Linked DNA regions of Homo sapiens. The protein of the gene in region 4 purifies or fractionates together with the protein of the main gene of each other region. This does not show direct contact. Each region holds a gene or a part of one and is shown on either strand. Other genes may lie near its edges.

What was found.
Region 1: the proteins of SLC34A2 (region 4) and CACNA2D1 purify together in Homo sapiens (affinity purification with mass spectrometry; 2 studies listed by BioGRID and IntAct, with this or other methods). This does not show direct contact.
Region 2: the proteins of SLC34A2 (region 4) and TMEM63B purify together in Homo sapiens (affinity purification with mass spectrometry; 2 studies listed by BioGRID and IntAct, with this or other methods). This does not show direct contact.
Region 3: the proteins of SLC34A2 (region 4) and SMPDL3B purify together in Homo sapiens (affinity purification with mass spectrometry; one large-scale study listed by BioGRID and IntAct). This does not show direct contact.

Annotation. Positions count from the first base shown.
Region 1 is NC_000007.14:81,948,361-81,950,777, forward strand, and holds part of CACNA2D1 (voltage-dependent calcium channel subunit alpha-2/delta-1 isoform 1 preproprotein), read right to left. Parts: intron 2,149-2,417; coding exon 2,032-2,148; 3' UTR 1-2,031. UniProt on the Homo sapiens protein: The alpha-2/delta subunit of voltage-dependent calcium channels regulates calcium current density and activation/inactivation kinetics of the calcium channel. Plays an important role in excitation-contraction coupling.
Region 2 is NC_000006.12:44,134,054-44,137,553, reverse strand, and holds part of TMEM63B (mechanosensitive cation channel TMEM63B), read right to left. Parts: intron 3,135-3,500; exon of another isoform or gene 2,994-3,134; coding exon of another isoform or gene 2,970-2,993; coding exon 2,811-2,969; intron 2,538-2,810; coding exon 2,458-2,537; intron 2,227-2,457; coding exon 2,188-2,226; intron 1,206-2,187; coding exon 1,115-1,205; intron 1-1,114. UniProt on the Homo sapiens protein: Mechanosensitive cation channel with low conductance and high activation threshold. Osmosensitive cation channel preferentially activated by hypotonic stress.
Region 3 is NC_000001.11:27,941,500-27,944,999, reverse strand, and holds part of SMPDL3B (acid sphingomyelinase-like phosphodiesterase 3b isoform 1 precursor), read right to left. Parts: intron 2,726-3,500; coding exon of another isoform or gene 2,636-2,725; intron 1-2,635. UniProt on the Homo sapiens protein: Lipid-modulating phosphodiesterase. Active on the surface of macrophages and dendritic cells and strongly influences macrophage lipid composition and membrane fluidity. Acts as a negative regulator of Toll-like receptor signaling.
Region 4 is NC_000004.12:25,665,851-25,669,350, reverse strand, and holds part of SLC34A2 (sodium-dependent phosphate transport protein 2B), read right to left. Parts: intron 3,224-3,500; coding exon 3,080-3,223; intron 1,472-3,079; coding exon 1,360-1,471; intron 1-1,359. UniProt on the Homo sapiens protein: Involved in actively transporting phosphate into cells via Na(+) cotransport.

The DNA.
Region 1 (2,417 bases), on a different chromosome or scaffold from region 4:
ATGACACTACAAAATCACAACAATGCATTAGAAATGGTAACTGATGTCAACTCTTAGAACAATAGTTGGCAAAGTGATTCCATTTCCCCCCACCTTTTTATTGAAAAAAAAAATCTTGAAATGTACACAAATGGTACCTAAGGTATATTGGTGGTGGGAGGGAATTACAAATGTATGCAAAGCTAAAAACAAAACAAATGTTATCTTTTAAGCTACGTTAAATTATTGGTTATATCTTTGATATGTGGAGCATATTAAAGCATGCTGGATAATGTTAATAACTTTGACTTAAAAAGGATATGTAAGAAAATTTCCAGCATATACACATACCAGTAATTGGCATGTTCCAAAAAAAGAAAAACTGCATTTTATCATAAAAAATATCTACATACGTTCAGCCTTCAGTAAAATTATTAACTATTCTTAGAATTACACATTCATAGTTTTTACCTTTTCTTCAAATACTGTTTGCTCCAGAAAATAATTTTTAAAAGCATAAATAATCTGCTACCATATTAGTCTATAATGAAATATCTGATTTACTACACTAACCATTTTCACCAATGAGGCTGTATAAAAAACAACTTTTATTATTCACAATCAAGTATTCATGTGCATACATAGAGATTCAAGGTTTCCTATTTGTTCAGATTATTGTAAAACCCTTATCAACTTGCATGGAAATTTTGGCCAAACGATCATACCATTTAAAATGGAAGGGCAAAAGCAGCAGTAGCAGGAACTTTTGGATTGTATGTGCTACTATTGAAACGAACAAAGAGGAAACCTAGGATGAATCTTCATTGAGAACATATATGTACTTTTCAAAAAATAAATGTGTCAAATCTGATTTATGTACTTAAAATATCTGTACATAGGTTATCAGGCGAAAGCATGAATCTGTATAAAATTCATTAATTCTCATTTCACCATTTATCTAACCCCAATCATTCAGCATTTACATTGCACAGTATATTCAGAGTAGTTTAACAACATTTTAAAGATGACTTAAGTGCATTTACACTGCAAGGTTCAGATTCTTACATAACAATATCACTCAGTTAACTTTTCAATGACTACACTCTACAGTAAGAGAAAAAACAACTGAAAAGTTAAAATAGCAGCAGCATCATGCAAAATACCCTTGGTAAACCAAAGTTCATTTATCACAAGAAAAACATTTCCCCCTCCCCCCTGACAAGCTTTTCTTAGAGCATTTTTAAATATCTGGCTAGCACTACATAACTGTACTGTGAACAAAAGGAACATTACATCAAAGCATTTATTAAGGGCTTGCTTACATTTATGAGGAAATATGTCACATATTCTAATTTCTCCCTCAAGCACCTTTAGTTTAATAATTTCTTAGTTACTATTTTCAAACCATCAATTCATTACCCCATCAAAATTGAATTGGTCATCAATTGTGTTTTATTTTTGGCAAAGAAGCCGTTCTTCATAAGGCATTTTATTCATGGCAAATTTTTCATAGAAAATTAGCCATTATTTATATTTCAACAATTTAGACCAATGTTAATTCTCTCTTTCTCTATATATTTCAATAATTGCTACTTAAAGCAGGAATTAACTTTTCACAGAAGAAAAAGTGAAGGCAAAAATAATTTCTTTCCCCTTAGAGATTTTCTTAGTAAAATTGCAGCAAGTCAAAATTCCAGGTCAATATCAAGACATTTCTTATGGTTCATTAACAATTGTATGGGGAACCCTTTCACATGTAATCACCAACAATGCAACAACAAACTCCCAAATTTTCCAATAGAGGACACGTATAGGATTTTGCTTTGATGTTACACATAGATGATGCAGCATTCACACACGTTTAAGGATCTGACACCCTGACATGCAGCCAGTGGGTGCCTTAGGAGTCTGCGCCTTAGTGTTATGCCATGGAACAGGCCCAGCTAATGTTTGTCTGATTTTATAGCTGACCCTACGTTACTGTAATTGAGGGCAGGGCTCATGTTTTGGCAGGGTCTGGAGTTTAACTATGCAGATTTGGTTTTTAGAAGGTCATAACAGGCGGTGTGTGCTGCCAGATACCAGCCAAAGTAGTAGAAACTGGATTCCAATGATATACCACAGGGAGGGATTTAATCCAGAAACACCACCACAGTCAGTATAATCCTCCTGTTGTTAAAAAAAAAAGAAAAGAACAGAAAAAGAAAAATCTAAAAATCTTGAAAAATATTTAGTAACACATCTTTCAGAGTAATCCATATTTAGTTCACTTTCTGAACTTACCTTATAAAACTGCTGTAATTGAAATCCAAAGAAATTACTTTCTCCTAGATTTTATCATTGAGGAATTTCCCTAGCATCATTTGACAAATGCTTTAAATTTTTAGTTGTAGCTTTTGATGATTATGAAAGAAAATAATAAATGCTGTTTGAATAAT
Region 2 (3,500 bases), on a different chromosome or scaffold from region 4:
TTTCGGCCGTGATTCAGGACCATGCTACCTGTTGCCAACATCACCTGAGTCTGGGGACCATCTGGACACTTCTGGCTAGCAGATGTGACAACTTTGCCACCTACCAGTATGAGTCCAACTCAGGAAGCTGAAGGCCATCTTCTGCTGGAATTGCTGGAAGAGCTGCCACCCCTAGGACTTGCAGCCCAAGAGGGACTGACCAGGGCCACACCATGTCTGAGGATTAGAGTTCTGACTAGGCTCCTTACCCTCATGGAATTAATGATGGAGAGCCAGGCAGGTAACACCTGTGTGTTAGGTCTGATATGAAAGGGGTCTGGAGTCTGTTATGAATTGCCATTCATATGCCTTGTTAAAAGGGACCACTGCCACTCAGCTCCAATCCACAAGCAGGTCAACCGGCCCCACATGGCCAGGGGCCACCCACCTGCAACCTCCGAGCAACATGACAGATTCTGTTTTTCTAGGCAGGGCTGGAGGGCTTATTATTTCTTTTTTTTGTTTGTTTTGAGATGGAGTCTCGCTCTGTCACCCAGGCTAGAGTGCAGTGGCGCCATCTCAGCTCACTGCAAGCTCCGCCTCCCGCGTTCACGCCATTCTCCTGCCTCAGCCTCCCAAGTAGCTGGGACTACAGGCGCCCACCACCACGCCTGGCTAATTTTTTGTATTTTTAGTAGAGACGGGGTTTCACCGTGTTAGCCAGGATGGTCTCATCTAGTGACCTCGTGATCCTCCCGCCTCGGCCTCCCAAAGTGCTGGGATTACAGGCGTGAGCCAAGGGCTTATTATTATTTCTAAAACCATGACTACGGAAAAAAGGTGGCCTTAGGATTAATCAGCAGAAGTGGGCACAAAACTCTTTATGGCAAACAAAGTTGGGAATTCATGAATGTTAAGGCTGTGCTAGTTTGGAGACTGTGACATAGAGGACAGCAGCCAGGAGTTCAGGGCCTGGGGGGTCATCCTGTGGCTCCTTGGTTGAATCACTTTCTTTGCTGAGGAGGAGGCCAAACCAGCATCCCTGACTCCACATCACTGAAAGTGAGGGACTTCTCAGCCCATGTGCCCTGGGGGTGGGGTGGGGGACTAAGAAGTTTGGGGGGAGGGCACTCACATTGTCCCTTTGGTCAAAGTCAACGGAGCTGGAGACAGAGGTGAGACGCTCATACCGGTCATGGCTGTCCCCGTGCATAGCTGAAGCCACACTGGGGGTGAGGGAGATGAGAGATCAGAGAGCCTGGTGAGTCTGAGCCCCCGGGAAGCTGGGCTGAGTGCTCCAGAGCTCCAGGGCTACAGAAGGCACAGAAGGCACAGGAAGCGCAGAGGCTGAAGCAGAGAGGAATGACTGCCCTCTACCCTGCTTCCCTCAAATATGCCTCTTCCTTTCAGGGGGACTCAGGGTGGGAGCGGAGGTGGGCACTGATGGTGGGCAGTGGGGACTTGAGGGAGGAGGTAATCTTCATCATCTCCCTAAGGAGGCTGAAGCGAGAATGCCAGAGGGCCCTGCAGTTCCAGAGTTGACTGGCAGGGGCCGGGGGCGGGCAACGGAGCCAACATTATGCAAAGAGCAATGAGGAGGTGGAGGAAAGGATGGACCAGGAGAACCTGGAAGGGCTGGGGAGACTGGAAGGTCTCCTGGGTGGGACCCTACCCTCCGCTCCCCTCCCTCTTCCCTGACTCCAACAGCTGTTACAACTCCAACTCCAATCCTATAGACAGAGATGACAAAGTGACAAAAAAGCCCAGACTGGGGGGCTCCTTGGGCAGCCCTCCTCCCAGGCCTCCAGAAGAGGTGAGCAGGGAACCCTGGAATATGAAGAACTAGCTGTTAGCGGACAAGAAGCTGCTGGTGACACCCAATCTTGTCTCTACGTGATTGTGCTGAGGATTTCCTGGAGGACAGCCCCTCCCCTCCAGCCAACAAGGGCTGCATAGGCAGGGGCACACAGGGAGGGACTTCTCCCAGGCAGGGAGCCAGAGGGAGAGATGAAGGGGAGGTGAGGCAGAGACAAGCTGGGGAGCCCCCTGCTCTGCAAAGCACACCGCCTGCGTTAATCCGAAACATGAGCCTGCAGAGGAGAAAACTGCAAAAAGAAACCAGCAACTTGGCAGGAAGAGAAGAGAAGCGTGAGAGAAGAAAAGGGAAAGCTGGTTTAGTGGGAATGAGGGGGCTGGTGCCCCACATACTATTCCTGTTCCACTCGGTCCCTCTCCTGCCGCCGAAGCCTGGGGACAGAGAACAGACAGGGTTAGCAGGGGCGGGGGAGAGTCCCTGGGGACAGGTGAGGAACAGGGGCCCAACTTAGGGCCCTCATGCCCCCATGCCCACATTGGGGCTAGTCCCTTCTCATCCCCCCAGCAAAGGGGAATGAGAGAGGGCTGGCTCCTTCCTATTCCTGAGGAGTGTGGAACAAGATGTGTGTGTGGAGAGCTAGAGGGAGGGTCCCAGACCCTTACCTGTCTGCATCTGTCACCAAGGCCAGCCGCCCATAGTCCCAGGCCACCTTCCGGAGGATAGAGAATAAGAACAGCAGTGCCTGAGGGAAGAGGGGGCAGTTGGCAAGTGCAGAGGCTGTCTGTCCACCTGCTGGACTAGGGGGCAGAAGCAGAGGGTCCAAAATCTTGTCTTAGAAGGGGATGACCCTGGCTTGGGTGAATGGTCAAAGGCGAGGCTTGGGCTGGATGATGGGGACTCCTCCTGCTTAAGCCTGGGAAACCGGGGCAGGTGGGAGAGTGGTTAGAGCTGGAAGTGTTTGCCAGGTGTGTACAGGGCATGGATGCCAAGGTAAGGGGTGGCAGCAGGCACTTACAAGGAAGCACATGAAGTCGAGAGCCAGCACGGTGGGGACGCCCCCAAAGGGCAGGCCCTGCAGGACAGTGCTGCGGATGCGGGCGCTGTAGCAGTAGTCCTTGGGGTTGCTGTTGTTGAGGGCTGTGGTGCCCAGTGTGGCCAGCAGAAAGGGCAGCATGGCTGCTACTGCCGCATGGTCCTCCTGGGCAGAGGGTGGAGCAGTCAGCTGGGCTTGCCCCCATCCCCTTCATGGCCCAGTAGGGTGGGCGTGGGGAGGGGGCAGTGAGGACAGATCACCAGGCTGCCTGGGTGGATGGAAGCTCTGGCCTCTGGAGATAAGGGCCTAGGGAGGGGAGAGTTGAGTCACATGGATTTACCTTCACTGGCTCTCTGGCTATGACCCCACCCTGGGTCTGGGGAACTCAGTCTAGATGCCAGGCCTGGACTGGGGAGGCTGGTTTCATTAAGCTGGAAGGTATCTGTGATTTTCTAACATCTATCTAAATCCCCCCTGCCGCCGCCACCCCCACACTCTCATTCTCTCTGTCTTAGGGCAGGGGGCGGAGCTGAGCCTGGGAAGACAGGGAGGGGTCTTAGGCCTGAGGACTCAAGGGTAAGATGAGGGGTCTCCACGTCAGGGGAGAATGGGTCAGGAGCCAGCTGCCTCATCCTGATCTTTTCTTTCTATGCCTATTAGAAAAAATGGCAT
Region 3 (3,500 bases), on a different chromosome or scaffold from region 4:
CCCCGTCCTCCTCCCCACATTGGATGGGCAGCCACAACATTAGAGCTCAGGCATTCTAATGAGGGGGCTTGTTTTAAAGCAAAGGCGGGAGAGGGTATGGGTTAAGTGCTCAGGCTCTGAGCCACTTAGGAGCTGTGTGACCTGGGCTATGTCACTTTTCTAAGCCCATTAACTAGAGCCATATCCTCTCATGCTGCAGGGAAATATAACTACATATGAAAATCTGACCTGTCCTGGAATTTCTTGGAAAATTAAAAAAAAAAAAAAAGAAAAAAGTCTGACCTGGATGGAAAAGGCTTACACACCAAATGAGCTGGAAAACCTTGCTAAGCAATACCAGCAAAGCCCGGGTGCAGTGGTTCATGCCTGTAATCCCAGTACTTTGGGAGGCCAAGGTAAGATGATTCTTTGAGGCCAGGAGTTCAAGACCAGCCTGGGCTACATAGGCGGACCTCATCTCTACACAAAATTTAGAAAATTCGTCGGGTGTGGGGTCATGTACCTGTGGTCCCAGCTACTCAGGAGGCTAAGGTGAGAGGATCGCCTGAGCCCAGGAGGTGGAGGCTGCAGTGAGCCATGATCATGCCACTGCACTGCAGCCTGGGTGACAGAGCAAGACTCTGTCTCCAAAACAAAACAAAACAAAAACAGCAAAAACCTGGGGACTACATGTGGAAGTGAGTATAAGAGTACTAGACCAGGGAAAAAGGAACGCCACTTCAGATCGGGCTGACCTCCTCTGGTAGGTATATTTGCTGGTGATTCTGGATCCAAGGTGTGGCTCAAGCAGCTGGGAGTGGTCCTGCTTGCTGAGGTGATTGACCGAAACCTAGACTCAGTTTCCGACCAAAGGAGGCTGAAGTGGCAAAAAACTTCACAGTGTAATAAAGAGAAAGGAATCCAAAGAAACAGGTGAGATGGAGTAGACTTCTCATGCGAACCCAACACGGCCTGGCACAGTAGTTTCTTTTTTTTTTTTTTTTTTTTGAGACAGAGTTTCGCTCTGTGCCCAAGCTGGAGTGCAATGGTGCAATCTCGGCTCACTGCAACCTCTGCCTCCTGGGTTCAAGTGATTCTCTGGCCTCAGCCTCCCAAGCAGCTGGGATTACAGTCATGCGCCACCACGCCCAGCTAATTTTTTTTTTTTTGTATTTGTATTTTTAGTAGAAATGGGGTTTCGCCATGTTAGCCAGGCTGGTCTCAAACTCCTTGACCTCAGGTGATCCGCCCGCCTCAGCTTCCCAAAGTGCTGGCATTACAGGCGTGAGCCACCGCACCTGGCCAGCACAAGTTGTTTCAATGACTGCTTACTGAAGGAGGGTTGAGCAGATCTGGCCTCTGTTCATCCTGTTTCTCGATAAAACAAGAATGACGCCCAGGATTTCCTCACCCTCTGCTATTGCAATCACTTCCTCCCCCATTTCTTGTGTCACCTAGAGCCACAAGTCAACATCACTGGCCCCAAGAAGCTGTGTCTGGGCCTGGGAGACTGGACTTCTTTTGATCTCAGGGTTGGATAGCCAGGGCCCCACCCAGGCCACAGGACATTCAGTGGACAGCCTGCAGATAAAGGCTGGCCCCTGACCCTCACTCCTTGACTTTCCCTCCCAGATGCTCTTGAGCTTTTCCCCACCTCTCCTGATCTAAACAGTCTCAGGAAAGGATGTGAAACACATTCATACTAAAGTGTAAATGGCTGATTAAGCAAATCATTATCCCTCCCACATGCATTGTTACAGTGTTCTCCGCAGAGCCCTGGGAACATTATCCCACTTTACAGATAAGGAAACTAAGGTCTGGAGGTCAACATGCCTAAGATCACATGGTAAATGATGGGGATCTCTGGGCTCCAATCCCTCCCAGGAAGATGTGATTGTGAAAGGGGTTAAAAACCAGTGCCTTTCTATTTTAGATGGGTCTTTTTGTTGACAGCATATTCCCACATTTTTATTTTTTATCCAAACTGAGCCTTTGTTTATAATGGGGAAAATTTAACCTTTCCACACATATTGTGATCACTAATATATTCCTGCCAGGCATGGTGGCACAGTGGCTCACACCTGTAATCTCAGCACTTTGGGAGGTTAAGGCAGGAAGATTGCTTGAGGCCAGGAGTTCAAGACTAGCAGGGGCAACAAAGCAAGACTTCGTCTCTACAGAAAATAAAATTCAGCCAGGCACAGTGGCTCACGCCTGTAATCCCAGCTACTCAGGAGGCTGAGGCAGGAGAATTGCTTGAACCCAGGAGGCGGAGGTTGCAGTGAGCCGAGATTGTGCCACTGCACTCCAGCCTGGCGACAGAGCGAGACTCCATCTCAAAAAAAAACACAACAACAAAAAACAAAAAAATAGCCAGGCATGGTGGTACACTCTTTTAATCCCAGCTACAGCTACTTGGGAAGCTGAGGCAGGAGAATCGCTTGAACCCAGGAGGCGGAGGTTGCAGTGAGCCGAGATTGCACCACTGCACTCCTGCCTGTGCGACACAGCAAGACTGTCTCAAAAAAATTAAAAAGAATACAGTGACAAAACCCCAAGCCAGAGTAAAGGAATGAACTGCCTCATACCAGTTAGTTGGTGGGCAGAGTTGCTGGGCATCCCAAGTCCCTGAGCTGAGACCGTGAGTGGCTCTCACCTGCTTCCAAGCCCGGAGCCAGGCTGGCCAGGATGGATGTTGGGGGAGGCCCTTTGCCTTTCTCTTGGGCACATGGTCCTTGCGCTTCCTCTGCAGACAGAGAAAGAGGCTATTCCCCTGCCTCAAGCTGGCTCTTTCTCAGTTAACTACAAACACTGAGCAGTTTGGCCCCTTTGACGTCAGCCCTCAAAGTATTCAGGAACATTTCTCCACTCCAGAAACTCCTCATCTCACCTGTCAGTTGTCGTTTTCCAGCCAGTGTGTAGAACTGAAACTACTTTCCAGCCTCTCTGGCACATACTGCTGAAGGGTGTGTGTACATGCATGTGTGTTTATGTGTGTGTGCGTGTGTGTCTGTGTGTGTGCATGTGTGTGTGCTGACTCCAGGAGAGGCCAGGCTAGTGGACAGAATGGTGGAGAGAGCCAGAGGTCCAGGCGGGCAGCTCCACCTCCTTGGGGTCCAGGTGGGCAGCTCCAACTCCTTGGGGTCCAGCCTCCTCATTGTGGGAGTGCAGATCCCAGCGACCTTGTCAGCTCAGCCCAACCCACCACCCTCAGCCAAGCTGCTTCTCCTCACAGGGCCTCTTCCCTGACTACGCCATGGCCTCGCCCAATCTTCCCACATCATCATGCGGCTGCCTCCTCCTCATTCAGGCCTCTGCCCCAAGGTCACCTCCTCAGAAGACTCCCCTGACCACCTCATCTCAAGTGCCACCTCTCCTGCCTGTCTGGTCGCTATTTCTTCCCCAGCTTCCTTTTTCTCAGAGCACTATCACATGTGAACTTACCTTGTTGGCTTGCTTATTGTCCATCTTCCCTGTTTACAATGTCAGTTCCATGAGAGCACCAAGCCCGTCTTGTTTAC
Region 4 (3,500 bases):
TGAAGGCTACCTTCTTTTGGAAAGGTGGGGACCAGTATGAAGGCAACCAAAGCCCTCTATGCTGGAGTTTTCAATTGTTCCAAACACATAGAAATCATAAATCCCCAAAGCGGTGGGCACCTCAAATACCCTGATTTGATCACTACACATTCTATGAATGTAACAAAATATCACATGTTTCCCAGAAAGGTGTAAAAATATTTTGTATCAATAAAAAAATTTAACTTAAAAAGACCTCTATGCAAGTGAATTCTTAAACTTTTTTTAAGTTCTTGAAAGTGATGAAACATGAATAGTTTCCATGGGAAACAAGGCTAAAACATTTTGCATCCATCTGAGGAGGTTCAAAGATTCCTCCTCGATTCCATCTTATCTCCAGATTTAAAAAACTCTGTTCTGGATTTTTATGTCTTCAATGAAACAGCTTACCTTTTAAAAAAAAACTGAAAAAAAAAAAAAACTAGCTAGAAGAGGCTAAGAAACACTTAATTTTCACATTAACCTTTTTGAAAGAAAAGAGTTTCCAGCATTCTACCTGCTCTAGTTTCAGAGTTTCTGCATACGCAGAAACTAGGTTTTGTTTTTTATTAACTTGTAAGTGAAGAACAAAGAAAAGGTGGCATGGGTTGAGCTGACCGAAAGTGGAAGTTTAAATAAGTTATAATTATGACCAAACAAAACAGTATTTATTTATTTTTTTTTTTTTTTTTAGATGGAGTCTCACTCTGTCACCCAGGCTGGAGTGCAGTGGCACGATCTCGACTCACTGCAACCTCCGCCTCCCGGGTTCAAGCGATTCTCCTGCCTCAGCCTCCAGAGTAGCTGGGATTACAGACGCTGGCAACCACGGCCGGCTAATTTTTGTATTTTTAGAAGAGATGGGGTTTCACCATGTTGGCCAGGCTCCTGACCTCAGGCGATCCACCCGCCTGGGCCTCCCAGAGTGCTGGGATTACAGGCATGAGCCACCACGCCCAGTCCCAATAAATCCTACTCTTCTAACTGGCCTTGCTTCAATTCCGCCACCCAGCGGCTAAGTTTCTAGCTAGAGTTTGCATTTATTTAGTGAACTCAATGTGCTGGGTGCTCTGAACACTCACCTGCTGGGTTGTATATTTAATCCTACAACAACTCAGTAGTGATAGATAGTATTATCCCTGCTCTGCCGATCAGGGAGCTGAGTCTAATCAGCTGGTGAGTATGTGATCCAACCCTAGCCATACCTCCCTGTGGTTACTTCTAGGAACTCCAGGAATGAACCTGATAAGCATGTCATCTTTGGCTGGTTAAAAGCAGTTACAACAGCGTGGCCAAGAACAATAGAGCTGATGTCGCAAAGGCTGGTTTTGAGCCTCTTACCTTCTGAACTCACTCCGATCTCCCACCTGCATGAGCGCAACAATAGTGTTGGTGATTGACGTTCCAATGTTGGCCCCCATGATAATGGGGATGGCAGCCCGAACAGTGAGCACTAGAGGATGGAAAAGTACCATTAGCAAGCTTAGAAAGGCAGCCTGGAGGCAGGCTAAAGTTACCTATGCTGGTATCCTCTAAAGAAGTAGTTTTTATCCTCTATGCAAGTGAATTCTTAAACTTTTTTTTTGCACCTCACTCTGCACCTCACTATGAATCTGAAGAAAGTGCCTTTCTAGCTTCCTCCTTCCTCCCTATTGCAGATCCAAGGCTAGCCTGAAGGAGACCAGGAGGCACCCACTGATTAAGGACTTAGGTGGATGAGTGCAGGGCTTGCATGTACAGTTGAGTCAGTTGTGCATGGCACACAGGCTCGCCTTTAAGGAAGCATCAGTTTTTTTTCTTTTCTTTTTTATTTTTATTTTTTGAGATGGATCTCGCTCTGTCTCCCAGGCTGGAGAGCAGTGGCTCGATCTCAGCTCACTGCAACCTCTACCTCCCAGGTTAAAGTGATTCTCTTGCCTCAGCCTCCTGAGTAGCTGAGACTGGAGGCATGCACCACCACATCCAGCTAATTTTTGTATTTTTAGTAGAGACGGGGTTTCACCGTGTTGGTCAGGCTGGTCTCAGATTCCCAACCTCAGGTGAGCCTCCCACCTCAGCCTCCCAGAGTGCTGGGATTATAGGCGTGAGCCACTAGGCCCAGCCAGGAAGCATCATTTCTGTGCTGGATATCAGACATTTAATTCTAGGCAGTGTAACTTTTTCCAACAAAATCAGCATATTGCTGCACCTTTTTTGATATAAACAAGTAAAATATTTTGAAAGTGTAATACCTTTTTCTAACTGGACGAGAAACATTCTAGTTAATTTTGGCTAAGATGCTAGCTTGGGAAGAAAAATAGTTCTGGTCAGGGGCTGTGGCTCAGGCCTGTAATCCCAGCATTTTGGGAGGATCACTTGAGCCCAGAAGTTTGAGACCAGCCTGGGCAACACAGTGAGACCCAAGTCTCTATTTAAAAAGAAAATAGAAAAAAAAATAATAATAATCAGTTCAAACTGGTCCCCCTCAGAGGGTCTGTCCAACGTAGCTGCAGCAATTATCAGACAGGTACAAGTTTAGTGTGCCATCTCCCAAGCTCGGTTGTCCCAGAGCAATTTGTGATGTGATTAAGTTGTCTTTCTTCTTAGCACTGAGAGTGGCCCTGTCCCAGAGAACTAACTTTCTGCAGTGAAGGAAATGTTCTATGTCTCTACTTCTCAATAGGGTAGCTGCCAGCCAGCCACATGTGGCTCTTTAACACTTGAAATGTAACTAGTACAACTGAGGAACTGAATGTTATATTTTAATTTTAAATCAATTAAGGTTCAACAAAATTAAACTGCCACATGTGGCTAGTGGCTACAGGTCTGGAAAGTACAGTACTAGAGAATTCAGAGCTGAGAACTCCAGCAGCAGGGTCTATTTCCAGATCCTGCCATCGAAATGGAAACAGGAAGTTGCCTTGGATCAAGAGGGAAACACATTGTAGCTGGGGCAAGATACCAAGACAATGGTGGCAAGGCCTGGACATATTCAGAGTGAATTCCTCCCCCGTCCTTCCCACCCTCAGATAGACAGGAGAGTGTCTGGAATGCAGGTGGGCTCATGGGTGCCCCGACTCACATGAAGAGGACACCATGCTGACAACGATGGACGTTGAGGTGCTGGAGCTCTGCACCAAGACGGTCACCAGCACCCCGATCACCAGCCCCAACAAAGGGTTGGACATAATAGAGCTGTTGCTGAAGAACTGTCCTGCCATTTTTCCTGGGAAAAACAAACAAACAAACAAAAACAATCACAACGTGATCGAGGGGGATTAGGTGGGCACTGAGTAAACAGAAGTCTCCATCCAAGGCCAGCTGGCTGTGGGTTGCAGAGTCCAGCCTCCATCGCTGCAGGCACCCAAGGAATCTTGCTTCCCCATGCCTCTTCCCAGTGCTGCCCCGATAAGGCAGGAAATCTACTAGCTGCCCACACGTGCCTCCTGTCTCTGTCTCTCTGCCCTGGTTCCCGACCCACTGTGAGCCCCTGGTTACTTTTG